Homo sapiens: one gene and its partners. The protein of the gene in region 1 purifies or fractionates together with the protein of each later gene. This does not show direct contact. Each region holds a gene or a part of one and is shown in the gene's direction. Other genes may lie near its edges. The genes, in order: PAK5, TBC1D2B, FAM83B, TANC2, ARHGEF2, DBN1 and GAN.

Region 1 (3,500 bases):
TGTCTGCCAGGCACGGTGGCTCATGCCTATAACACCAGCACTTTGGGAGGCCAAGGCAGGTGAATCACTTGAGGCCAGGAGTTTGAGACCACCCTGGCCAACATGGGAAAACCCCATCTCTACTAAAATACAAAAAAATAGCTGGGTGTGGTGGCACACTCCTGTAATCTCAACTTCTTGGGAGGCTGAGGCAAGAGAATCACTTGAACCTGAGAGGTGGAGTTTGCAGTAAGCCGAGATCGCGTTACTGCACTCCAGGCTTGGTGACAGAGTGATACTCTGTCACCATTAAAAAAAAGAAAGTTGTCAAAACTTTTAAAAGTTTAAATTATTTGACACACTATTCCTCTTGTTTTTTATTTTATGTTTTCTTTTGTCTTTGGTAAGGAAGTAGATGCAGGTAAAATTGTGTATTATAATATATTTCATAGTAATAAAAATTAAAAAGAACCTATATAACTAGAACTTGGGAGCTTGGTAAAGGTATTTAAGGTCCCAAGATAACAGACTATTATATAGGTATTAAAATTAATTATTTTGAAGATTATATAATGACGTGAAACAAACTTCACCACAATTTTAAGTGGAAAAAAACAAAATGCACTACTACATATATTGTATTGTTAATATGTGTTTTGTGAAATGAAAACATCATGCAGGTATATTTAAAAAAACAGAACAAAATTAAAAAGTTAGGCAATCTCTGGGTGGTGGAAATATGGATGGCTTTTATTTTGTTACACTTTTCCAAATTTTAAAAAATGTAGTAGGCCGGGCACGGTGGCTCACACCTGTAATCTCACCACTTTGGGAACTCGAGGTGGGTGGATCACTTGAGCTCAGGAGTTTGACACCAGGCTGAGCAACATGGCAAAACCCCATCACTACAAAAAATACAAAAGTTAGCTGAGCGTGGTGGCGCACGCCTCTGATTTCAGCTACTCAGGAGGCTGAGGTGGAAGGAATGTCTGAGCCCATGAAGTGGAGGTTGCAGTGAGCCAAGATCGCACCACTGCACTCCAGCCTGGGCGACAGAGTGAGGCCCTGCCTTGGAAAAAAAAATTAGTCAATGATGTGTTGTTTTATGAATCAGAATTAAAAAATCCACTATTTTACAAATAAGCAGTGATATACATTTAGGTTGTAATTATTCATTTATGTAACAAACATTCATTGATTATCTCTTGTGTCAGGGGCTCTGCCAAGTGTATCAGCAGTGACTCTTAGATTGCATGCAAATGAAAGAAACTCTGCCTAACTCCAGCAAAAGGAATTTACTAGAAGGATATTAGGTAGCTAAAAGAATTGCCAGGAATGTGGCGGGGGATGGGGAATCCCAAACACACGCACGCGCGCACACACACACACACCCCCCAAAACAGCTTGGAAGCAGATGAAGCTAGTCAGTTCCAGGTCTAGATATCAGGCACTTTGGAAACAGACTCCAGCCAAGAATGACTTGTTCAGAGCTTGACCACAGTCCACTGGCTGCTATGCTTGGGGTTCTTCCCCCACACCCAGCCCACTGGGCATGGGATAGGAGGGGGGGTGCCTTGATTAGTAGGCCCACTACCCCTTTCCAATGAAAGAAACACAAGAGATGTGATGGGTGCTAAAAAGCCAAAACCAAACCAAACCAAACCAAAAAAAGACAACAGAAATGCCCATTACCCTAGGACTTAGGGGTAAACAGGGTTGAATACCACTCATCCCTCTCTTTGCATCCCATAGGAAACATTTGCTATGACATGGGAGTTTAACTTAAGGTTCATGGTCTAATGTTCACTGTGATGTGCATCATTGAAGGTGCAATGTGGGTGCCCCACACAGAAGGTACATTTTCCTCTTGGAGCCAGTAGTGACATGTTGGGAAGAGTGTGGATTTTCAGCCTGATCCTTATATACCGGCAGGAATTTTGAAAGAAAGGTCCCATTTTCTCAGGTAAGAGAAAATCCTAGAAAGGTATAATCTGAAAGAAACAATGAAGCAGAAGCAAGAGGTATAATATGGAAATAGATCAGGCACCAACACAGGTCTAGCCTTCTTTTCTGAATGATCTTACATTCAGCAAGCCCAACAGTCATGTTTGAGTTTAGTTCACCATGAATACCAGCCTCTTGGTTCAATTAACTTTGGTTGATAAAGTTATTATTAACTAAATATTAAAAGATCATACTTAGATCAGTGCATATTCTTACTGCAGTTCTCATGATAAATAGGAAATGTCTGTGGCTGTCCAGGTAACTTAACAATCATGTTGTTGCTTTTATAACTCTTTATAAACTTTTCTGTGAAGAAAGATGACTTGTAAGTGGAAGAGAAAAAAGAGGTAATTGTTCTTCACTTGTGCTTAAAACAGGACAGAGAAAATAATCTTAAATTAGCAAGACAGGTCCCTGTCCTGGTCACTGTATATTAGAGGGCTCTGCTACTCTGCACTCCAACTTCTCAGCACCTGGACAGCACTGCTCCTCTGCAACAAAGACCCCTTGAGCTCTTTGCCTCCTTCTGAGCCTTGCTCTGCATAGCTGGGACCTTGGAATTCACTGCTCATGGGGCTCCTGGGCCCAGTGGGGGTTGAAAAAAGACTGTTGGTGGGAGGTGTAAATGGAGCTTGGACTTGTGGACTTTGTAGTCTCCACACAAGTGCTGGAGGCCATGGTAGAAAGAGAAAGGGATGGGGAGGGGAGCAAAGACTGGGTCTCCTTGCTTTGCTATGTTCTGGAATTTAAGTACTCTAAATTTAAATCTGGCTTCTACGTTGTTATGAAGGCATATTTGTTAAGCCAGGAAGATATAACACATTTAAATTAACATTTTTTTAGCTTGATTTATAGTATTTAAATATTGAGATCTGTAACATGTGGGACTCCTTTTGTACTCTTGTCTCTCAAATGTTAGGATCAGGCCTGCTCAGGTAACTGTTTTAGAAAGGTAACACTCAATTGTTGAGACACACATGCATAATTAGCTAATCATGCAACGGCAATGTAGATTATAAGAAAAATAGATTATACTTTTTGTGACTATAGCTAACATATTGAACAAGATGTGTTAAGCCCACATCCAAGTATTTTACCTATGTATATTAATTAGTCTTCATAAGAACACCATAAAATAGGTCACTCAAGGCAAAATATCATGCAGCTAGATAGAGTCAAGAAGCTCTGGATCATCTGAATCCAAAGGCCATTGTGGTATACAACAATTCAATGGATAAGAAAAGTTTTATCTGAGGTCCTTGAACCTCCGATAATTTAAAAGTCACTAGATTAATCAACCCACTTTGACTCTCCAATACTCTCAAATCCTCAGATTCAGCATTTCTGTTCGTGCAGATTTCCTCATGAAAAGGGAAAGTAAATGAATGGACTGCCTTGCAGTGTTTGGTATTATGATTAACTGAATGTTCCAAACCAAAAATCAATATTTGGTTGTTTGTATAAGAAGCACATTTAACTTACATTTTTAAACAGATGTCCAGTTGTGGGATTTCCTT
Region 2 (3,500 bases), on another chromosome or scaffold:
TTTGTTTTTTTGAGACAGAGTCTCGCGCTGTTGCCCAGGCTGGAGTACAGTGGCACAATCTTAGCTCACTGCAAGCTCCGCCTCCCGGGTTCACGCCATTCTCCTGCCTCAGCCTCCTGAGTGGCTGGGACTACAGGCGCCCACCACCACGCCCGGCTAATTTTTTGTATTTTTAGCAGAGACAGGGTTTCACCGTGTTAGCCAGGATGGTCTCGATCTCCTGACCTTGTGATCTGCCTGCCTCGGCCTCCCAAAGTGCTGGGATTACCGGTGTCAGCCACCGCACCCAGCCTTTTCTGGAATATTTTAAAGCAAATGCCAGACGTCACGTCATTCCACCTGTAAAATACTTCAGTGTGTATTTCTGACTGATGATACCTTTTTACATACTAATCCCAGATACATATCATTTTGAACTTATTTCCTTCAACATTATTTTCTGAAATTATCCAGGTTGATACAAGTTACTCCTGAGCTATTTTTTTTAAGAGATGAGGTCTCTCAGTCTGTTGCCCTGGCTGGCCTCGACCTCCTGGTGGGCTCAAGCAGTTCTCCTACATCAGCCTCCCAAATAGCTGGTACTACAAATGCACACGACTGAGCATGTTTACCTTCTTTGTAGAACATCATTGTATGAATCTACCATGGTGTCTTTATTCCTTCCCCTCATGGAGGACATTTAGGTTCTTTCCATTTTTCCTTGTTACAGTGATGCAAGGACCATCATGGTCCATATTCCCATGTGCCCACGTGAGAGAGTTTCTCTAGGGTGCAGACTGGAAGTGGAATTCCTAGTGTATAGAAAATACATACCTTTAACTCTGCTTGCTAGATCTGATTTCCAAAGTGCTTGAGTAAGTTTACGCTCAGCAGCAGTGTGTGAAAGGCCTTTGTAGTAGTTTTCTTTTACTGGTACAACAAATTATCATAAACATAGTGGCTTAAAACAACACAAATTTGTCACTTAATAGTTCTGTAGGTCAGTAGCCCAACATGGGTCTCATTGGATTAAAATCCAAGTTTAATTAAGGGCTGCATTTTTTTCTGAAGGTTCTGGGATAATTTAAGTTGTTGGTGGAATATAGTTCCTTGCAGTCATTCGTAGGACTAGGTCGCTATTTCCTTGCTGGCTGTCAGCTGTGGTTGGCGTCTTCTAGAGCCCCCTGCATTCTTTGGCCTGTGGCCCCTTTTCCCATCTTCGGGGCAGCAGCAGCAGGTCCAGCCCCTCTCACACCTCCCGTCTCTCCTGCCTGACATTTCTCTGACTGACTCTTCCACTTTGAAGGGCTCATGAGGATATTTGGGCCCACCCAGATATCCCAAATAATCTCCTTGTTTTAAGTTCTGTAGTCTTAACTGCATTAACGTTCCATTAACAACATTCCTATTGCCATGTAATGTAAAACAGCCACAGGTTCCAATAACTGGGACGTGAACATCCTTATCCCTAATAGCTTATAAATACATTCTTTGTTTTTTTTTAATCTTTTAAAATGATATTTTTAAGCATAAAGTTATACATATGTAGTGTATATATATGATAAAGAAACATACACATATATTAATGTAGCCAAATTTATCAATCTTGTTTTTGTGCTGTTGCCTGCGTTTTCTTCCATGCGTTTCATATTTTCAGTGTTAAACTGTTTGGGATTGTTTTTTTTCCCTGTATAGTGTCAAGTAGATATCTAATTTAATTTTTGCATATAGATAGCCAGTCCTCCTAGCTTTATATACTGAGAAGTCGATTATATCCTCACTGATTTGAAATGCTTCTCATAGTTCAAAGTACCACGTGTGCCTGATTTGGTTTCTAGACTCTCTATTTCTGTTGCATTGGTCTTTGTTGCTAAAACTTTGTCATTTTAATTTTTCCTTTTGTTTTTATCAACAGTGAATATGATATTTATGGGTTCAGGACTGTACCTGAGGATGATGAGGAAGAGAAATTGGTTGCCAAGGTCCGCGCGTTGGATCTGAAGACTCTCTACCTCACAGAAAACCAGGAAGTCTCCACTGGGGTCAAGTGGGAAAACTATTTTGCAAGTACAGTGAACAGGGAGATGATGTGCTCTCCAGAGTTAAAAAACCTCATCCGTGCGGGCATTCCCCACGAGCACCGTTCCAAGGTGTGGAAGTGGTGTGTGGACCGTCACACCAGGAAGTTCAAGGACAACACTGAGCCTGGCCACTTCCAGACCTTGCTGCAGAAGGCGCTGGAGAAACAGAACCCAGCCTCCAAGCAGATTGAGCTGGACTTGCTGCGAACTCTGCCCAACAACAAACATTACTCCTGCCCCACCTCAGAAGGCATACAGAAGTTACGCAATGTCCTCCTCGCCTTCTCCTGGCGGAATCCAGATATCGGCTACTGTCAAGGCCTAAACAGGTGGGTGCACAGCACAAAATGTTCCCATTTGCCATTAGGCAACTTGTAGGCACCGGTGCTGCCTGGCAGCTCCCTCCCTTCCTGGTTGGCCAAGAAAAGTCAATATTTTAAGAGAAAAAAGTAGTTGCAGCAAGCCAGTTTTCATTACACAATATCCCCAGTTCTAGAAGAACTGAGAGAAAAAGCATGCTTTTAGAAAGTATTAAGAACACAAGAGTTAAATTCATTTGAAACTACTTGGAGTCTCATTTTTTCCTGTTTGTTCTCATCGCACTCGGGTTTTGATCAGAAGTTTGATTTTATTAGTTTGTAATGCATGGAGTGGAAATTGGTGGTCACCCGTTGTTTATGCAGTATACAGGATCTTTTTGTGAATCAAGAGGTTGCCCCAAACAATTATTCAGCTGACTGAAACTTAGCCCTTCATGGACTTAAACTTGTTTCCTTTTAAACTAGAACTTTTAACAGGTCTTGCCTACTTCCCTACTTCCATAGGCAGAGGATGCCGAAAAGCCTCTCATGTTTTCTGGGTGATGTAGGCTCATCCTCCTGAGCTGTGCAGGGATGGGACAAGACCTCAGGAGGACTGAGGTTTGCTCCCCACAAAGCTCTTCCTGTCACTGGACTTTGCTGTGACTGCTTCTTACCTGGCTGGCGCGCTTTCTGCTTACTGCTGTCCTTGCAGTTGTCCATTTATATTTCTGTGTAATGAAAGTAGGTAAGCAGGCTTGTTAAAAATATGGATAAAGGTCCAGTGCAGTGGCTCACACCTGTAATCCCAACACTTTGGGAGGCCAAGGTGGAAGGATCGCTTGAGCCCGGGAGTTTGAAACCAGCCTGGGCAACATGGTGAAACCCCGTCCCTACAAAAAAATTGGCTGTGTGCGGTGGGTCACACCTGTAATCCTGGCACTTTGGGAGGTCGAGGCAGGCGGATCACCTGAGGTCAGGAGTTCAAGACCAGCCTGGCCAATATGGTGAGACCCTGTCTCTACTAAAAATACAAAAATTTGCCAGACGGTGGCACATGCCTGTAATCCCAGCTACTCGGGAGGCTGAGGTAAGAGAATCACTTGAACCCGGGAGGCAGATGTTGCAGTGAGCCAGCATT
Region 3 (2,415 bases), on another chromosome or scaffold:
CTCTTCTTTAAGTTGTGCCAAATATGATATGACTGCATAGTGTTTTTGTAAGAATACCATTGGGAAAATGAGAAGTTTTACTGGGCTAGTTCTTCCATGATTTGAGGATGATATTCAGATTATAAGATACCCTTTGTCTTTCTTACAGTAATGAAGTATAAGCTCCATATCTGTTCCAGAGACTTTAACTTGACTTTGCTTCATTCACAAAGAACAGAGTTCAAGAAGCAGTGCATCCTGTGAGAAGTGTGAAGTGTTTGTACATCACTTTAAATATATTACTTAATATATTCTAAGTTGCTGTGTGGAGCAGTATACTGTTGTTTTAAAAATGCAAGATTCAGACAAATTTTAATATTGTCTCATTAAAATAATTTAAATAATGGTATAAAATATCTATATCATTAAAATAATTTTCCATAGTGTTTAGAAACCATGAAAAAGAAAACATAGCAGGAGAAAATATGACAGGAAAAGAAAACCTAACAAAGCCCAGAACCCACAGTTAACCAAACTAGACTGACTTTGTTATTACCCATTCTTTGTTAGTATTGGATAGGGAATTAGGATAATGAGCCATTAGGCAGTTCTGAAATGGAAAGCCCTGAAATTTAGTGCAATGTAACTTTAAAACTGAAATTATATAAAGAGTAGAAGTTTAATCATGTTTAATTACAACCAAAAGCCTGTTGCCTTTTTGTACAGAAATCTCCTTAATTTCAGGACATGTAGATAGCTTATAGAAACATCCTTTTAAATAGTTTGTGAGCTCTTCCTCTTCAGTGGAATTGAGGAATACAGAATGCTTTATTTCATCATCCCCTGACAGGTGACTTAGGCTTTGCACAGCAGATTTATTTTTCTCTGCGTTTTTTAAAAATTGTTTTTCTTGTATCTTTTTTCTTCAAAAATATCTATATTTGAGAATATGTACATAACAACTTTCCAAAGTCTCTGTGGCCAAAACCTCTCCAGGGATAAGACTGAGCAAGAATATAATACTTCAAAAAATGTACAGCTACTGTTTAAGTTTTAAACAGACACCATCACAGTTTGTGGATGAAATAGTTTTAAGCCATATACTTTCTGTCTTTTTTTCCCCATATTAATATTGGGGGGCGGATAATATCACTTTGATGTACATTGATATTAAAGTTTGGTAATGCAGCTTTTACTGTCTACATGGTACTGTACATTAGTTTTTAAGCAGAAACACAAGAAAAATGGGTATAATTTCAAAGTAGTTCTTGGCAGATGGCTAGAGAATACTGCAAGTGACCCTGTATCCCGAATACACAGATATCCCTCTATTACAAGTTTGGGATTAGCCATAATTCTGACATGGTGTGTTCAGGTATGGGTATATGTTGTCAGTCTACACTTGTGGAAGCAAATATCTTGTTTAATCAAGATGATGTCTAGTGTCACCTAAATAATGCAAAAAGTTTAATTCTGGATGAATTCAGCTTTACTCAAGATCCACATATTCAAGTATCATTCCACAGATATTCACAGAACACAGAAATATCTGTGTTCTGCCTTATGCCTGTGGCTAAGGGATGCAAAGTAGAATTGCTTTACATTGACTATATATGTGACATGTACGTTGCTGTTTTTTTTAAAATAACTTTATCATGATATTCAGGTAGATCCTGGGTTCTAGAATATTTAAAACAAAAGGATAAAATGATAAACCAAAGAGTCAACTTGTTAACTTTTCTTTTTTAAGAGATGGGTTTTCACTAGTATGCCCAGTCTGGACTCCAAGTCCTGGGCTCAAACGATCCTCCAGCCTCAGGTTCCTGAGTAGCTCAACATTTTATGTATGTACGATATTATAAAGAAATATTCTTCCAAATGAACTTTTGTTTTTAGATCAATAAATGAATAATAAATAATTTTGTACAAACATCAATATATTGTAAGCTATTGTTTTTTTAAATCTTCATACTCTGCATTTCTGCATTCAAGCTCAGTCTTTCACTTAGTTATTCTAATCAGGAATTTAGATGTGTACATATTTTTAAATGTTTTTTCCATGAACTTGGAAATCACATGTAAAACATTGTTTTGATTACCAATTATATTTTATATAGTAATTTATTCATATTTGAAATTCAGTGGCGATTCTCTTCCTTTAAGCAAAATATTATATATACACATTCTCTTTATTTCTATTATACTGTAACATAGTGGTTACTTTAAATAATTTTTTACTTTTTTTTTTTTTTTCAAGATGAAGTCTTGCCCTGTCACCCAGGCTGGAGTGCAGTGACACGATCGCAGCTCACTGCCACCTCAGCCTCCTGGGTTCAAGCGATTCTCCTGCCTCAGCCTCCCAAGTAGCTAGGTTTACAGGCACCTGCCACCTAATTTGTGTATTTTTAGTGGAGATGAGGTTTCACCATGTTGGCC
Region 4 (3,500 bases), on another chromosome or scaffold:
CTTTAGACTCATTGCCTGCCACTTCTGTCTTCAAAGTGCTTTAGCGGTAGTAAACTGTGTGTGGTTCCTTCAGTATGTAGTATTCTCCTACCTTTTCATGCCTTTATGAAGTTCTTTTTTTCATGGACTACTCCTGCCCTCTCCTTTGTTCTCTGGGCAAACTGCTTCACAGCCATCATGCGTTAGCCCAATGTCTTCCGAGTGAAGAAGGTTTTGCTTACTCCTCCAGGTGGGCTTGGGCATGATGTTCTCTATCTATTCTCCCCTTGCACTTGGTGTATATAGTAGTTGCCGCATTTTTTTTTTTTTTTTTACACGGCGTCTCACTCTGTTGCCTAGGCTAGAGTGTAATGGCGGCCATCTTGACTCACTGCAACTTCTGTCTCCTGGGTTCAAGTGATTCTCCTGCCTCAGCCTCCTGAGTAGCTGGGATCACAGGCATGTGCCACCATGCCCAGCTAATTTTGTTATATTTTTAGCAGAGATGGGGTTTTGCCATGTTGGCCAGCCTGGTCTTGAACTTCTGACCTCGAATGATCGGCCCGTCTCAGCCTCCCAGAGTGCTGGGATTACGGGCATGAGCCACCATACCCGGCCGTAACATATTTTAAATATTTAATATGACTGGTTCATCACTAATGTGTGAGCTTTTAAGCAGGCACTGTGACTTTTCATCTTTTCAGCATCAGTATAGTTAGTACATAGTAGGTGCTCATTATCTACTTATTGAGTGAGGATTGTTGACCGTTATCTCAGTTATGCCTTTGAAACCTCATCTCTTATTGTGGAATTAGAGGAAACTTTAGGCACCAGGAGGTAGGTTTAGAGAAATATACACACCATCTAAAATATTACTCAGAGTAAGTCCTGGACTGTAACTAAAACTAACCCTAAAGATAAACCAGATTTTGTTCTTTTTTATGTTTGCTGGTGGCAAGAGGAAGATGAGAAGATTCTCTGAACTTTAGCCAAATGATTTTCTTTGTACAATGCAAGAGTTGCCAAACTATAGCCCATAGACCAAATCCAGCCCATTGTCTGTTTTTGTATGACCTGCAAACTAAGAATGGTTTTTACAATTTTAAGCAGTTGAAAAGATATCAAAGGAGGAATGATACTTCATGACATATGAAAATTAAAGGAGATTCAAATTTCATTGTCCATAAAGAAAGTTCCATTGGAACTTAGCCATATTCACTTATTTACATATTGGGTATTGGGTGCAGCAGCAGAGTTGACTACTAGTTGCTGTCGAGACCATACGGCCTGCAAAGCCTAAATATTTACTAGCTAGCTCTTTAGAGAATAAGTTTGTCAGTCCTTGGTCTGTTACATAGCCTGTGCCCATTAAGTGTTCGTTGAATATCATGAGTTGGAGATATACCAGCTACTTTTTTGAAGGGCTTCGCAGGGCATAATTCCTTCTATTTACTGAGAAGATTGGCCACTTTGCTTTTGTAATGATTTATCTCACAGGCCCCTGTTGTACCTCTCTGATGACACCCTTATTACATCTAACACTGAATAAGACTCTCACAAAGTGTGTTTCAAGATTCTATTCCTTTTTTTTTCTTTAAAAGGTGGAGAGGAGTTTGGAGAACAGCATGTAGTAGAATGTTTTTCTTCGCTCACATCTCAGTTTCTCATATACATTTTTTGCAATAAAAGATCATTGTTATATTTTTAAAAACCTTGATTTTGTATATTAGTTTGTTAGGCAGACACCTTGTGTGTAAAGTTTAAAAGTTGAGGTGGATTAGTTATGTTGGAAAAACTGGGGTATTTTTATGGAGTGTATTAACATATTCATTCATTTAAATATTTATTGACTACTATGTATAAGTTGTTAATTTTACTACTATTGTCTTTGACTTGGGGATGGAAATTTCATATTCTTCCTTAAAAGCTAAAATTGTAATTCAGAATCCTGTGTCTTACATATTTTTTCTACCCCTGGGAAAAATATAGTTCAAAAACATATGTACCATACTATTAATATTTGCCACTTCCCTGAAGTTCAGTAAGCCAATGATGATAGATTTTACTGTTTTCTTTATGTGGCAAAGTGTTATGAAAAGGCAGTGATTGATATATTCCTTTTCGTAGATATCAGCCAATGTTACAGACATAAAATTCATAAAGAAAAGTACGTAAGCAATAATAGTGGAAAACTTGTCATTCCAAATGGATGATCTTTGGACCAGGTAGCCATTCTTATTTCCTTGTCTGTAATACCATGCTAGCATTATCATATGATGACGTAGCTGATTATAAAGATTGACAACATTAAGAAATATGGCCCCAGTTTTTTACTGCCATGGAAATCCCCTGGTTAATCCAGCCTTATAAGTAGATTATAGTTATTGAACTTGGAAACGAGAGTGGGTATATAGAGATTGTGATTTAGTCATTTTATGCTTGGAGAATGTGCTTCAAATCTCAGATCTCAGGCAATTCTGTCTGCCTAAATGAAGGTAGTCACTTCTTAGCCCTTTATTCCTAATCTTTCATTGGGTGGAGGAATCCCACAATTTCTAGTTGTGGTTGCTGAAATTTGGTAAGGCACAGCTAGTTAGGTTATAGGTTATAGAAACTTGATACATATTTATTGTACTCTGTAATTCTATTTCTGTTCAAATTCCATGGAATCCTCTAGGGCACCCTGGGATTGTGAATTAGTGTGAATGAATGTAAATAGCTTTAGTGGGCCTATGGAATGAAGACTTATTAAACCACATAAATAACCGTCCAACCACATACACCCATATTCTGCCTCAGGATCAGAGAATCAGCTTTTCCATTTTCGGGCTTTTTTTTTTAATTTTTTTTTTTTTTTAATGTAGAGACAGACTTTGTTTGAAAGCTGTTATTCAGACATTCCTATATTATAGGATGACAGTACTGTTGCTCAGTTGTAAGTTTAGAAATTCCAATGATGAGACCAGTATATATTGGAAAGAATATGACTTTATGAGTTTTGAATCATGAAAATGGGTTTGAATTACTGCTCTGTCACTAATTGTATGAGGGGCCAAAAATCTATCTCACAGGGTTTTTATGATGATGAAATGAAAAATATCTTGGTGAAAATCCTTAGGACGATGTCTAGTACTTAATAAATGGTAATTTTTATTAGCCTGTGGAAAGTATCCTAAATTTTTCTTTTTTGATATATGCCAGCTCCTCCCAATTTTTTACTGGCATTGTCACTCCAGCTTTTCTTTGTTATCTTGTCTTGATTTCCTTTTCAGCCTTGCAAGGCATTTTAGAAACCCATGGTAGTTTGGATACTGATTTATTTTATTCATATCCTTAAATTTTCTTTTGTGAAGTATTTGATAAAAGCTGAGAGAAAGAGTTTTTGAATAACTGTAAACCGAAAAACTCAGATACTGCTGGGCCTACTCTTTTTATGCATTTTTTTTGGACTATTTCTTTTGAACACTACTAACTTGACAAAAATTAATTTTAATCCTTTCTATAAAATCTCAAATCATAGT
Region 5 (3,500 bases), on another chromosome or scaffold:
GCAACCGAAGCTGGCAGCCTGGAGGCCCGGCTCCGGGAGAGTGAGCAGGCCCGGGCACTGCTGGAGCGTGAGGCCGAAGAGGCTCGAAGGCAGCTGGCCGCCCTGGGCCAGACCGAGCCACTCCCAGCTGAGGCCCCCTGGGCCCGCAGACCTGTGGATCCTCGGCGGCGCAGCCTCCCCGCAGGCGATGCCCTGTACTTGAGTTTCAACCCCCCACAGGTAAGGTGGCCTGCAGTGGTGAATGGACCTGGGGTGGACATAAGGGTCCATGGAGCCCGAAAGAAATTGGGCCATTGGGGATTTGAGCCCAAATGCAATCAGTCAACTGACTTGAAGGATATTGAGATACTGGTTGGAGAACTGAAAAGAAATGTAGATGGGTGCAGGGGTGGAGGAAATTAACTCGGGTCGTGGTGCTGAAAGAGGCCAGTTGGTGGTGGATCTCCTGAAGGGGACTCATGGGTGAGCCCCAGGGGGGAGAGCTGCTGCCTTCAGCCAAGCAGAACCTCCAATCTTCACACTACTCAGTCCCTGACCTGCTGTTCTTCCTGCCCACTGTCCACAGCCCAGCCGAGGCACTGACCGCCTGGATCTACCTGTCACTACTCGCTCTGTCCATCGAAACTTTGAGGACCGAGAGAGGCAGGAACTGGGGAGCCCCGAAGAGCGGCTGCAAGACAGCAGTGACCCTGACACTGGCAGCGAGGAGGAAGGTAGCAGCCGTCTGTCTCCGCCCCACAGTCCACGAGGTGAGACCCTGGCGGAGACATGGACCAGAGGTAGAGTGCAGCCTGGGTACAGGCCATTGGGCTGTGGCTTCCAAATGGGCCCTAACTGACCTGTGAGGCTTGTAGTAACTCTAGGGAGGGACTTCCTGTTTTGTCTGATGATGAATGGGTGGTGGAAGTCTAGGAAGCAGGAGGGGCCTCTCTCCTCCAACTGGTTGGTGATTCCCAACCTTTAGAAGTAAAAACAGATTCTTTTTTAAAAAGGCATGGCGGCTCAGGCCTGTAATCCTAACACTTTGGGAGGCCAAGGCAGGAGGATCGCTTGAGCTCAGAATTTTGAGGCCAGCCTGGGCAACATAGTGAGACCCACCTTCTCTACAAAAAAAAATTCATTTATTTATTTTTTTATTTTATTTAATTAATTTATTTCATTATTATTTTTTGAGATGGAGTCTTGCACTGTTGCCTGGGCTGGAGTGCAGTGGCGTGATCTTGGCTCACTGCAACCTCTGCCTTCCAGGTTCAAGCGATTCTCCTGCCTCAGCCTCCCAAGTAGCTAGGATTACAGGCGCCCACCGCCACGCCCAGCTAATTTTTGTATTTTTAGTAGAAATGGGGTTTCACTATGTTGGCCAGGTTGGTCTTGAACGGCTGACCTCGCGATCCACCTGTCTTGGCCTCCCAGAGTGTCGGGATTACAGGCATGAGCCACCACGCCTGGCTAAATTTTTTTTTTTTTTGAGATGGAATTCTCACTCTGTCGCCAGGCTGGAGTACAGTAGTGAGATCTCCGCTTACTGCAACCTCCGCCTCCCAGGTCCAAGTGATTCTCCTGCCTCAGACTCCCGAGTAGCTGGGACTACAGGCACATGCCTCCACGCCCAGCTAATTTTTGTATTTTTAGAAGAGATAGGGTTTCACCATGTTGCCCAGTCTGGTCTCAATCTCTTGACCTCATGATCCGCCTGCCTTGGCCTCCCAAAGTGCTGGGATTACAGATGTGAGCCACTGCACCCGGTCTATTTTATTTTATTTTATTTTATTTTATTTTATTTATTTATTTATTTAAGATGGAGTCTCACTCTGTCACCCAGGCTGGAGTGCAGTGGCACAATCTCAGCTCACTGCAACCTCCACCTCCTGAGTTCAAGTGATTCTCCTGCCTCAGCCTCTCGAGTAGCTGGGATTTACAGGCATGCACTACCACACCTGGCTAATTTTTTTTGTATTTTTTAGTAGAGATGGGGTTTCACCATGTTGGCCAGGCTGGTCTCGAACTCCTGGCCTCAGGTGATTCACCCACATTGGCCTCCCAAAGTGCTGGGATTACAGGTGTGAGCCACCGTGCCTGGTCCCCCAAAATTTTTTTAATTAGCCAGGTGTGGTGGAGTGAGCCTGTAGTCCTAGCTACGGAGAGTGAGAGTGAGGTGAGAGGATCACTTGAGCCCAGCAGGTTGAGTTGACAGTACTCCGTGATTGCTCCAGCCTGGGCGACAGAAAGAGACCCGGAGACCCAGACAGAGGATCTCACTCTAAAATTTTTTATGTTAGAGAGAGGGTCTTGTGCTGTTGCCGAGGCTGGACTCAAACTCCTGGGCTTAAGTGATCCTCCCAAGTAGCTGGGGCTACAGGTACATACCACTGTGCCTGGGAAGGTATAGTTTTTTGTTTTGTTTTGTTTTGTTTTTTTTGAGACAGTTTTGCTCTGTCACCCAGGCTGGAGTGTAGTGGCACAATCTCAGCTCACTGCAACTTCCACCTCCCAAGTTCAAGCAATTCTTGTTCCTCAGCCTCCCGAGTAGCTGGGATTACAGGCGCATGCCACCACATATAGCTAATTTTTGGCATTTTTAGTAGAGATGGGGTTTCACCATGTTGGCCAGGCTGGTCTCCAACTCCTGGCCTTAAGTGATTCTCCCACCTTAGCCTCCCAAAGTGTTAGGATTATAAGCACGAGCCATGGGGCCAGTTTTTAAAGTAAAAAAAGTTTCAAAGAACTTCAAGTTTTTACAGTTGGTTCATGAAATAAAAAATTACCAAAAGCTTTAACCTTAAAGTATTTTGTATTTTCCTAATCAAATTGTATCTTTGGATACTGTAAAAGTGTATCCGGTACCTAGGTATGGATACCTTGCTTACTTTGTTGCCAAAGGTTTTCCTCTCACCCAAGAATTTACAGAACCCTGTCATCCCTTCACAGCCCCAGAGCCCCCTGAGCCTGCAGATGGGGAGGCATTAGTCTAGGGGTACAGTTCCTCATGGGAGTCTCTGCTAACTCACTGGCTTTGTCCTGTCCCCCTTCAGACTTTACCAGAATGCAGGACATCCCGGAGGAGACGGAGAGCCGCGACGGGGAGGCTGTAGCCTCCGAGAGCTAAGGGGGCCCCTCCCCCCTGCCCCGTGCCCCACTGAAGAACATTACTGAGGGGGCTAACCTTGGGGACTCCAATTTGCCAATGATGAGGGAACATTTGAAAGAACTGCAAATTGTCCTTGCCAGCTCTTGGGATCCTTGGATACCTGGGGCCATTTAAGAAGCTAGGGGAATTAGGCCACAACACCCCCTGGGACATCCGAAAGCTACACCACAGATGCCAGTGGTTCATGCCTTCTTCCCGCAACTTTAGGAAAATTTATTTATTTATTGTTTATTAGTTATGGGGGGAGAGGGGAGATTTAAAGGACCAGGGACATGGGAACCAAGCCATAGGGATCAGAGGGCCTTGTCCTTGAACACTACTGGGGTATATTCAGGCTCATCCACGCAGCTGC
Region 6 (3,500 bases), on another chromosome or scaffold:
GTCTGGCCTGGAAGGCCGGAATGCATGCGTGCTGGGCTCTTGCCCCGGGCCTGAGGGAGCCTCCCGGAGCTTGCACCCAGGTGTCCCCGTTCCGCTTCTCAGTGTGCTGCTTCCGCCTCTCCTGAAGCTCTTCCCTGCCCTGTCTGCTGGTCTGAGTGTGCTTGCCCCATGCTGGGGTCCCGCCACAGGCCGTCCCTGCTGTACTGCTCCCAGGCTGGCTGTGTGTCTGGGGCTGGTGTGAGGCTGCGGCTGGCTTGGCTGATTGTGCCCCTGGCTGAAGGCAGCTTGGACATCCAGGGCCAGGCCCTGGGGGCGGGAGAGGCCTCGGGCAGGGGTGGGGGAGACTGACCCTCTCTTGTCCTCTGTCTCTTTCTCTGTCTGTCTCTCTCGGCAGGTCGTCCGTACTGCCCTTTCATAAAGGCATCGGACAGTGGGCCTTCCTCCTCCTCCTCTTCCTCCTCCTCCCCTCCACGGACTCCCTTTCCCTATATCACCTGCCACCGCACCCCAAACCTCTCTTCCTCCCTCCCATGTAGGTAGCAGCCCCAGGCCTCGGCGGGGGTGGTAAGGAGGGCCCCGCTTCCCAGCAGCCCCCCGCCCTCACTCCCCCAGTCTGACCGCTGATCTCTGGTGTTTGCCCCCAGGGCAGGCACTGCCTGCCTCTTGCCCCTGGCCTTATGGGGCACTGGCCTCCAGGGGCCTAGCTTACAGGGTCTGGAGCTGTAGTCTGGCCCCTGGTGGGGCTGGAGAGCTCCCAGCCCCCACCCAGATTCCAGAGAGGAGGTGCTGGCCAGGCCCCAAGGTGGACAATCCTGTCTCACCCGGCTCCCCCGCCCTCACTGACCCACCTGGGGTTTGTTCCACAGGCAGCCACCTGGACAGCCACCGGAGGATGGCGCCCACTCCCATCCCCACGCGGAGCCCGTCTGACTCCAGCACCGCCTCCACCCCTGTCGCTGAGCAGATAGAGCGGGCCCTGGATGAGGTCACCTCCTCGCAGCCTCCACCACTGCCACCGCCACCCCCACCAGCCCAAGGTGAGAGAGGGATGCTACCTGCACCAGGCCTCCCATCATCAGTCCCTGGCTGGGAGCCCCAGGTTGCCATGGTAACCGTTCTCCAGGGATCTGGGCCACCCATCACCAAGACTGCACTGCCCTGGAGGCGGCTGTGTGGGGAGGAGCCCTGGTGTACAGTCAGACCTGCCCTCTCTAAAGCTTAGCACCCGCCCTCTCAAGTGGGAATCGGGCCTTGGCCTTCCTCCCGGAGCTGCCAAGGGGCTTAAAGTCACTGGGGTCACTGGGTAAGGGGGCAGTGGGACACCTGCATGGAAGTCCCTGGCTCCCTCACTCCTTAGTGGGTGGGCAGGGTCTCCATCCTCCCCGAGGGGAGCCGGTTACATATCTCCTCTGCCTGTGCTGTGACAGAGACCCAGGAGCCCAGCCCCATCCTAGACAGTGAGGAGACCAGAGCAGCAGCCCCTCAGGCCTGGGCCGGCCCCATGGAGGAGCCCCCTCAGGCACAGGCGCCTCCCCGGGGGCCAGGCAGCCCTGCAGAGGACTTGATGTTCATGGAGTCTGCAGAGCAGGCTGTCCTGGCTGCTCCCGTGGAGCCTGCCACAGCTGACGCCACGGAGATCCACGATGCAGCTGACACCATTGAAACTGACACTGCCACTGCTGACACCACTGTTGCCAACAACGTACCCCCCGCCGCCACCAGCCTCATTGACCTATGGCCTGGCAACGGGGAAGGGGCCTCCACACTCCAGGGTGAGCCCAGGGCCCCCACGCCACCCTCGGGTACTGAGGTCACCCTGGCAGAGGTGCCCCTGCTGGATGAGGTGGCTCCGGAGCCACTGCTGCCAGCAGGCGAAGGCTGTGCCACCCTTCTCAACTTTGATGAGCTGCCTGAGCCGCCAGCCACCTTCTGTGACCCAGAGGAAGTGGAAGGGGAGTCCCTGGCTGCCCCCCAGACCCCAACTCTGCCCTCAGCCCTTGAGGAGCTGGAGCAAGAGCAGGAGCCGGAGCCCCACCTGCTAACCAATGGCGAGACCACCCAGAAGGAGGGGACCCAGGTGCGGCAGGGACTGCCTGGTGGGAGGGATGGGAGGGAGTGGGGGCTGAGCAGGGTGCTGGCCCTGCATTCCTCATGCTTGCACCAGTACCCCCTTCTCTGTGACCCACATTATTTGAGGGGAAGTCCATCCCACCCTCCCTCCCTGGGCCGGCTCTGCTTTTGTTCCCAAGGCAGGCATCCTTGTTTCCCTGGCAACCACTGATGGAATCATTGGTTGCTGGGGAAACGGGCTCAGGCCTGATAGGTCAGCCCCAGTCCTGCTGGGTGGGGCCAAGTGACCTGATGCTTTCCCCTGCAGGCCAGTGAGGGGTACTTCAGTCAATCACAGGAGGAGGAGTTTGCCCAATCGGAAGAGCTCTGTGCCAAGGCTCCGCCTCCTGTGTTCTACAACAAGCCTCCAGGTAGTACTGGGCTGGATGATGGGGAGGAATTTGGGTGCGGGGGCTGGATTTGAGTGTGGGTAGCCACCCCACCACTACCCACCGCTCACAGAGGCTGGGGACACAAGCGGTCTGCTAGGTCCCTAACTCCTCTCCCTTTCTAACGCCACAGAGATCGACATCACATGCTGGGATGCAGACCCAGTTCCAGAAGAGGAGGAGGGCTTCGAGGGTGGTGATTAGCGGTGGCGCCAGCCCTAGGCTACCCTTGCCAAGGCCGCCCACCTGCATCAGCCTCTGGCCAGACGGCCCGCCGTGCCTGCATTCGCAGCAGCTCCGCCTGGCACCCACTCCGGATTCCGGCCCTGGCTGGGGACTTGGCCGCTTCCCTACCCACAGGGCCTGACTTTTACAGCTTTTCTCTTTTTTTAAAAAGTTGATAGGAGACTTGTACAGTTGACTGGCTTTCCTCTCGTTGGTAGTTGAGACGCTGTTGCAAATTCCACCCCTCCTTCCCTGGTCCAGATTGTAGCTCTTAGTCCTCCCTGCTCAGCTGGCCGGGTTGGAGGCCTCACCCTGCTTGGGGCCTGGCGTGGGGGGAGCTCTGGTGGGAAAATGTCCCCCACCTCTTTTCCTAGTTTTATGTTTCTTGGGAAAATATCACTTTGTATTCTCTGTCCAGGGCTTCAGATATTTTGCACGAATTTTAAAACATGGCAATAAATGGCTCGTGGGCTCTGGCTCCCTGGGACCCCCTCCCCGCCCTTCTTTTGACCCCTTCCTGTCTGGCCCAAAGGAAGTAGCAGGCCCAGCTGGGGCCCCTCGGCTACCCCCCGTCTCCTGCCGGGCAGGTCCCAGGTTGGAGGCCCTAGGCGCGGTTCAGGTCAGGGCTATGGATGGGGCCCAGGGGCTTTGGTGGCCCCTCCCCAACTCCTTCCTCTTTGCTTGGGTTCCTTTTTCACGTTTAGTAACTGTTTTTTTTTTTTTTTTTTTTTTTTTTTTGGAAAGCACAAACTTCTGTAACGGGTCGTGCTCATGTCT
Region 7 (3,500 bases), on another chromosome or scaffold:
CAAATTATAGCTGGTTCTTTTCCTGTCTTTTCCTATTGAAATGGGAATCCTTTAAGGTGTAAAGGAAGCTGCTTGAAACTTTTACAGTGATACCTCAAATAAACTGATGATTTTTAAAAATTAAACTTTTACTTATCAAGACTCTGGGAAGTAGACAGTTAGGGCCAGGAGAAGATATTCAAGCAGCACGAGTGTGTCTCACTTGCCTGGTAATAACCTGAGTGTTAACAGTTTGTTTTCCATGAGGTGGAAAATGTAGATTCTAAAAATGATGTGTTGCATTTTCCATTGTTTTCGCCCCATCTTTCTTCCCTCTTCTGCAGGTCCACATGAAGGATGTTATGTCAGCTCTGTGGGTTTCAGGGTTGGACTCCAGTTATTTACGGGAACAGATGCTGAATGAACCATTAGTACGAGAAATTGTCAAAGAGTGTAGCAATATACCGCTCAGCCAGCCGCAGCAAGGGGAGGCGATGCTGGCCAACTTCAAACCCCGGGGCTACTCTGAGTGCATCGTGACTGTTGGTGGAGAAGAGAGAGTGTAAGTATGAGGTGGGACTTGTTTGAAAAGTGGTGTATGGGAAGAGGTAGTTCCATGTAAACAAGAATTCATAATGCTTTTCAGTATCTAAAACATAATTACATTTGATTTTTTTTTTTATACTTTAAGTTTTAGGGTACATGTGCACAATGTGCAGGTTAGTTACATATGTATACATGTGCCATGCTGGTGTGCTGCACCCATTAACTCATCATTTAGCATTAGATATATTTCCTAAAGCTATCCCTCCCCTCTCCCTCCACCCCGCAACAGTCCCCAGAGTGTGATGTTCCCCTTCCTGTGTCCATGTGTTCTCATTGTTCAGTTCCCACCTATGAGTGAGAATATGCGGTGTTTGGTTTTTTGTTCTTGCGATAGTTTACTGAGAATGATGATTTCCAATTTCATCCATGTCCCTACAAAGGACATGAACTCATCCTTTTTTATGGCTGCATAGTATTCCATGGTGTATATGTGCTACATTTTCTTAATCCAGTCTATCAATGTTGGACATTTGGGTTGGTTCCAAGTCTTTGCTATTGTGAATAGTGCCGCAATAAACATACGTGTGCATGTGTCTTTATAGCAGCATGATTTATAGTCCTTTGGGTATATACCCAGTAATGGGATGGCTGGGTCAAATGGCATTCCTAGTTCTAGATCCCTGAGGAATCGTCACACTGACTTCCACAAGGGTTTTTAAAAAATGTTTTAAATATTCTTTAGTAAACTAAAACTAGTGATGGCTACTTATAAAAAGAACTGTATGAAGCACATTAACTACTGATCACTTATTTACTTCCTTAGTTCACGGAAACCCACAGCAGCGATGCGATGCATGTGCCCTCTCTATGACCCTAACAGGCAGCTTTGGATCGAACTGGCCCCTTTAAGCATGCCGAGAATTAACCATGGAGTTCTCTCAGCAGGTACCGTTCTGTGGCAAATTTTCCTTAAACAGCAGATCAAGTAATGTGTAATCTCAAGGTTTTACAGAATGACTCAGAGCCTTTTAAAGATACAATTTTATTATCTCTACATGACATTTTTAGTGTAGTTCTAGCTTCTGAGACCGTGGTTAGGAAAACCGTATTTTCTGTCAGTCCTTATTATCTCTGTATCTTCAGCACATAGCTGCTTTTAAGAACTACTGGAGAAGCAGTTACTTGATGACTTAATGTCAGGAGAGCAAACTTCAGTGATGCTTACCACTAAGTAGCTGTAGGGCCACACCTGGAACACAGCGTTTCTTTGCACCATGGTAGTCCCATCTTTGAAATTCATGCAGCTTAGAATTACAATATGTAATTATATAAAATATGTTATATAAGGCCGAGTGTGGTGGCTCACACCTGTAATCCCCGCAGTTTAGGAGGCTAAAGTGAGAGGAGCCTAGGAGTTCAAGACCAGCCTGGACAATGTAGGAGAGAAACTGTCTTTACTAAAAATCAAAAAAATTAGCCAGGCATAGTGGCATGCACTTGTGGTCCCAGCTACTTGGGAGGCTGAGGTGGGAGAATCTCTTGAGCCCAGGAGATCGAGACTGCTGTGAGCCAAGATCACACCACTGCATTCCAGCCTGGGTGACAGAGTGAGACCCTGTCTCAAAAAAAAAAGAAAAAAAAAGAGAAGTTATGAGACTTTAGGAAATGCTACTTATATAGGCAATGGCTTAAAGTTATTTAGTATGGAAAATGCTTTACTTGACCTTTACAAGTTTGAAAACTGCTCTACTTTATCCAAAGCTCTCCCTTAAGGAGCTGATAGAAAAGATAGCCATTGAGGCATTGCCTTTGCTGGCTGCCTGTCTTTTCGCCGTGGTCCTGCTCCCTTGTCCACCTGATAAGTGTCATCTCATGTCATCCTAATTGTGGTCAGCAGCCCTCCTGCAGTCCTTATTTAATTGTGTTTGCTTGCCCAGCAACATTATCTTTAAAATTTTATTTTTTATTTTATTTTTCTTTTTAGAGATGGGATCTTGCAATGTTGCCCAGGCTATAATATTTTTAAAGCTATACTGTACCACAGTGCATCATACAAATGGCCAAGGCTCTACCATAGTATAGAAGTGGAGTCATTTTATGAGTCCCAAAATTATTAGTTATTGTCAGTAGTGAAGAGCTGGACAGAGTAGTATAGCCTGCAGGATGTAGGTCTAGTTTCCCTGTTGCATCTTCTCAGAATTAGCTCCCTTACATTTCCCCCAAAATATATACACATATTCCTAATTTTCACACATACACGTCTGTCACAAAGGCTCCTATATGACTAATATTTGAAAGTTTGCTAGAGGGATTGGTGTTTCAGAAACCCAGCAATGGAAGGAGCGACTGTGTACAGTGGAATTGATGGAAACAGAAGTGAGTGATTGAGGAGGTCCTTCCGTTTGTCCAGGCTGCATTGTTTTTTTTTTTTTTTTTGCCTTTTTAAAAATTGATTTTGACTGTTTTTTTGTCATTCAATTTTTCTTCTCTACCAGTTTGGGACTTACATTCTTGTTAATAGTCCTTTAGGAAGATTACCTTAGAAATTACAGCCTGTATTAAGTTAGCAAAGTCCAAAGTTAGTCAGTACCTGTGTTCTCTTCAGGAGAGTTTTTCTTCATTTTCCATTTTCCATACTCTTACAGTTTTAAAATGCATTATCACTAATAAATATGTACAGTAGATCCCCCTTATCAATGAGGGATGCATTCCAAGACCCCCGAGTGGTTGTCTGAGACCACAGATAGTGCTGAACCCTGTACATACTGTGTGTTTTTACTATACATCCATACCCATGATAAAGTTTAAGTTCAGCACAGTAAAAGATTAACGACAATAACTGATAATAAAACGACGATAACAATATACTGTAATAGTTATGTGAATGTGGTCTCTCTCAAAATATCTTACTTTACTGAACTCACCTATTTTCGGACTGCAGTTGACCATGGGTGATAAAACCACAGAAACCAAAA

The links.
Region 2: the proteins of PAK5 (region 1) and TBC1D2B purify together in Homo sapiens (affinity purification with mass spectrometry; 2 studies listed by BioGRID and IntAct, with this or other methods). This does not show direct contact.
Region 3: the proteins of PAK5 (region 1) and FAM83B purify together in Homo sapiens (affinity purification with mass spectrometry; one large-scale study listed by BioGRID and IntAct). This does not show direct contact.
Region 4: the proteins of PAK5 (region 1) and TANC2 purify together in Homo sapiens (affinity purification with mass spectrometry; 2 studies listed by BioGRID and IntAct, with this or other methods). This does not show direct contact.
Region 5: the proteins of PAK5 (region 1) and ARHGEF2 purify together in Homo sapiens (affinity purification with mass spectrometry; 2 studies listed by BioGRID and IntAct, with this or other methods). This does not show direct contact.
Region 6: the proteins of PAK5 (region 1) and DBN1 purify together in Homo sapiens (affinity purification with mass spectrometry; one large-scale study listed by BioGRID and IntAct). This does not show direct contact.
Region 7: the proteins of PAK5 (region 1) and GAN purify together in Homo sapiens (affinity purification with mass spectrometry; one large-scale study listed by BioGRID and IntAct). This does not show direct contact.

Annotation. Positions count from the first base shown.
Region 1 is NC_000020.11:9,829,077-9,832,576, reverse strand, and holds part of PAK5 (serine/threonine-protein kinase PAK 5), read left to right. Parts: intron 1-3,500.
Region 2 is NC_000015.10:78,011,712-78,015,211, reverse strand, and holds part of TBC1D2B (TBC1 domain family member 2B), read left to right. Parts: intron 1-1,894; coding exon 1,895-2,389; intron 2,390-3,500. UniProt on the Homo sapiens protein: GTPase-activating protein that plays a role in the early steps of endocytosis.
Region 3 is NC_000006.12:54,943,185-54,945,599, forward strand, and holds the end of FAM83B (protein FAM83B), read left to right. Parts: 3' UTR 1-1,915; downstream 1,916-2,415. UniProt on the Homo sapiens protein: Probable proto-oncogene that functions in the epidermal growth factor receptor/EGFR signaling pathway. Activates both the EGFR itself and downstream RAS/MAPK and PI3K/AKT/TOR signaling cascades.
Region 4 is NC_000017.11:62,972,735-62,976,234, forward strand, and holds part of TANC2 (protein TANC2), read left to right. Parts: intron 1-3,500. UniProt on the Homo sapiens protein: Scaffolding protein in the dendritic spines which acts as immobile postsynaptic posts able to recruit KIF1A-driven dense core vesicles to dendritic spines.
Region 5 is NC_000001.11:155,947,548-155,951,047, reverse strand, and holds part of ARHGEF2 (rho guanine nucleotide exchange factor 2), read left to right. Parts: coding exon 1-219; intron 220-565; coding exon 566-749; coding exon of another isoform or gene 750-779; intron 780-3,032; coding exon 3,033-3,106; 3' UTR 3,107-3,500. UniProt on the Homo sapiens protein: Activates Rho-GTPases by promoting the exchange of GDP for GTP.
Region 6 is NC_000005.10:177,456,635-177,460,134, reverse strand, and holds part of DBN1 (drebrin), read left to right. Parts: intron 1-394; coding exon 395-532; intron 533-866; coding exon 867-1,037; intron 1,038-1,427; coding exon 1,428-2,077; intron 2,078-2,377; coding exon 2,378-2,480; intron 2,481-2,631; coding exon 2,632-2,702; 3' UTR 2,703-3,500. UniProt on the Homo sapiens protein: Actin cytoskeleton-organizing protein that plays a role in the formation of cell projections. Required for actin polymerization at immunological synapses (IS) and for the recruitment of the chemokine receptor CXCR4 to IS.
Region 7 is NC_000016.10:81,356,462-81,359,961, forward strand, and holds part of GAN (gigaxonin), read left to right. Parts: intron 1-323; coding exon 324-541; intron 542-1,348; coding exon 1,349-1,470; intron 1,471-3,500. UniProt on the Homo sapiens protein: Probable cytoskeletal component that directly or indirectly plays an important role in neurofilament architecture.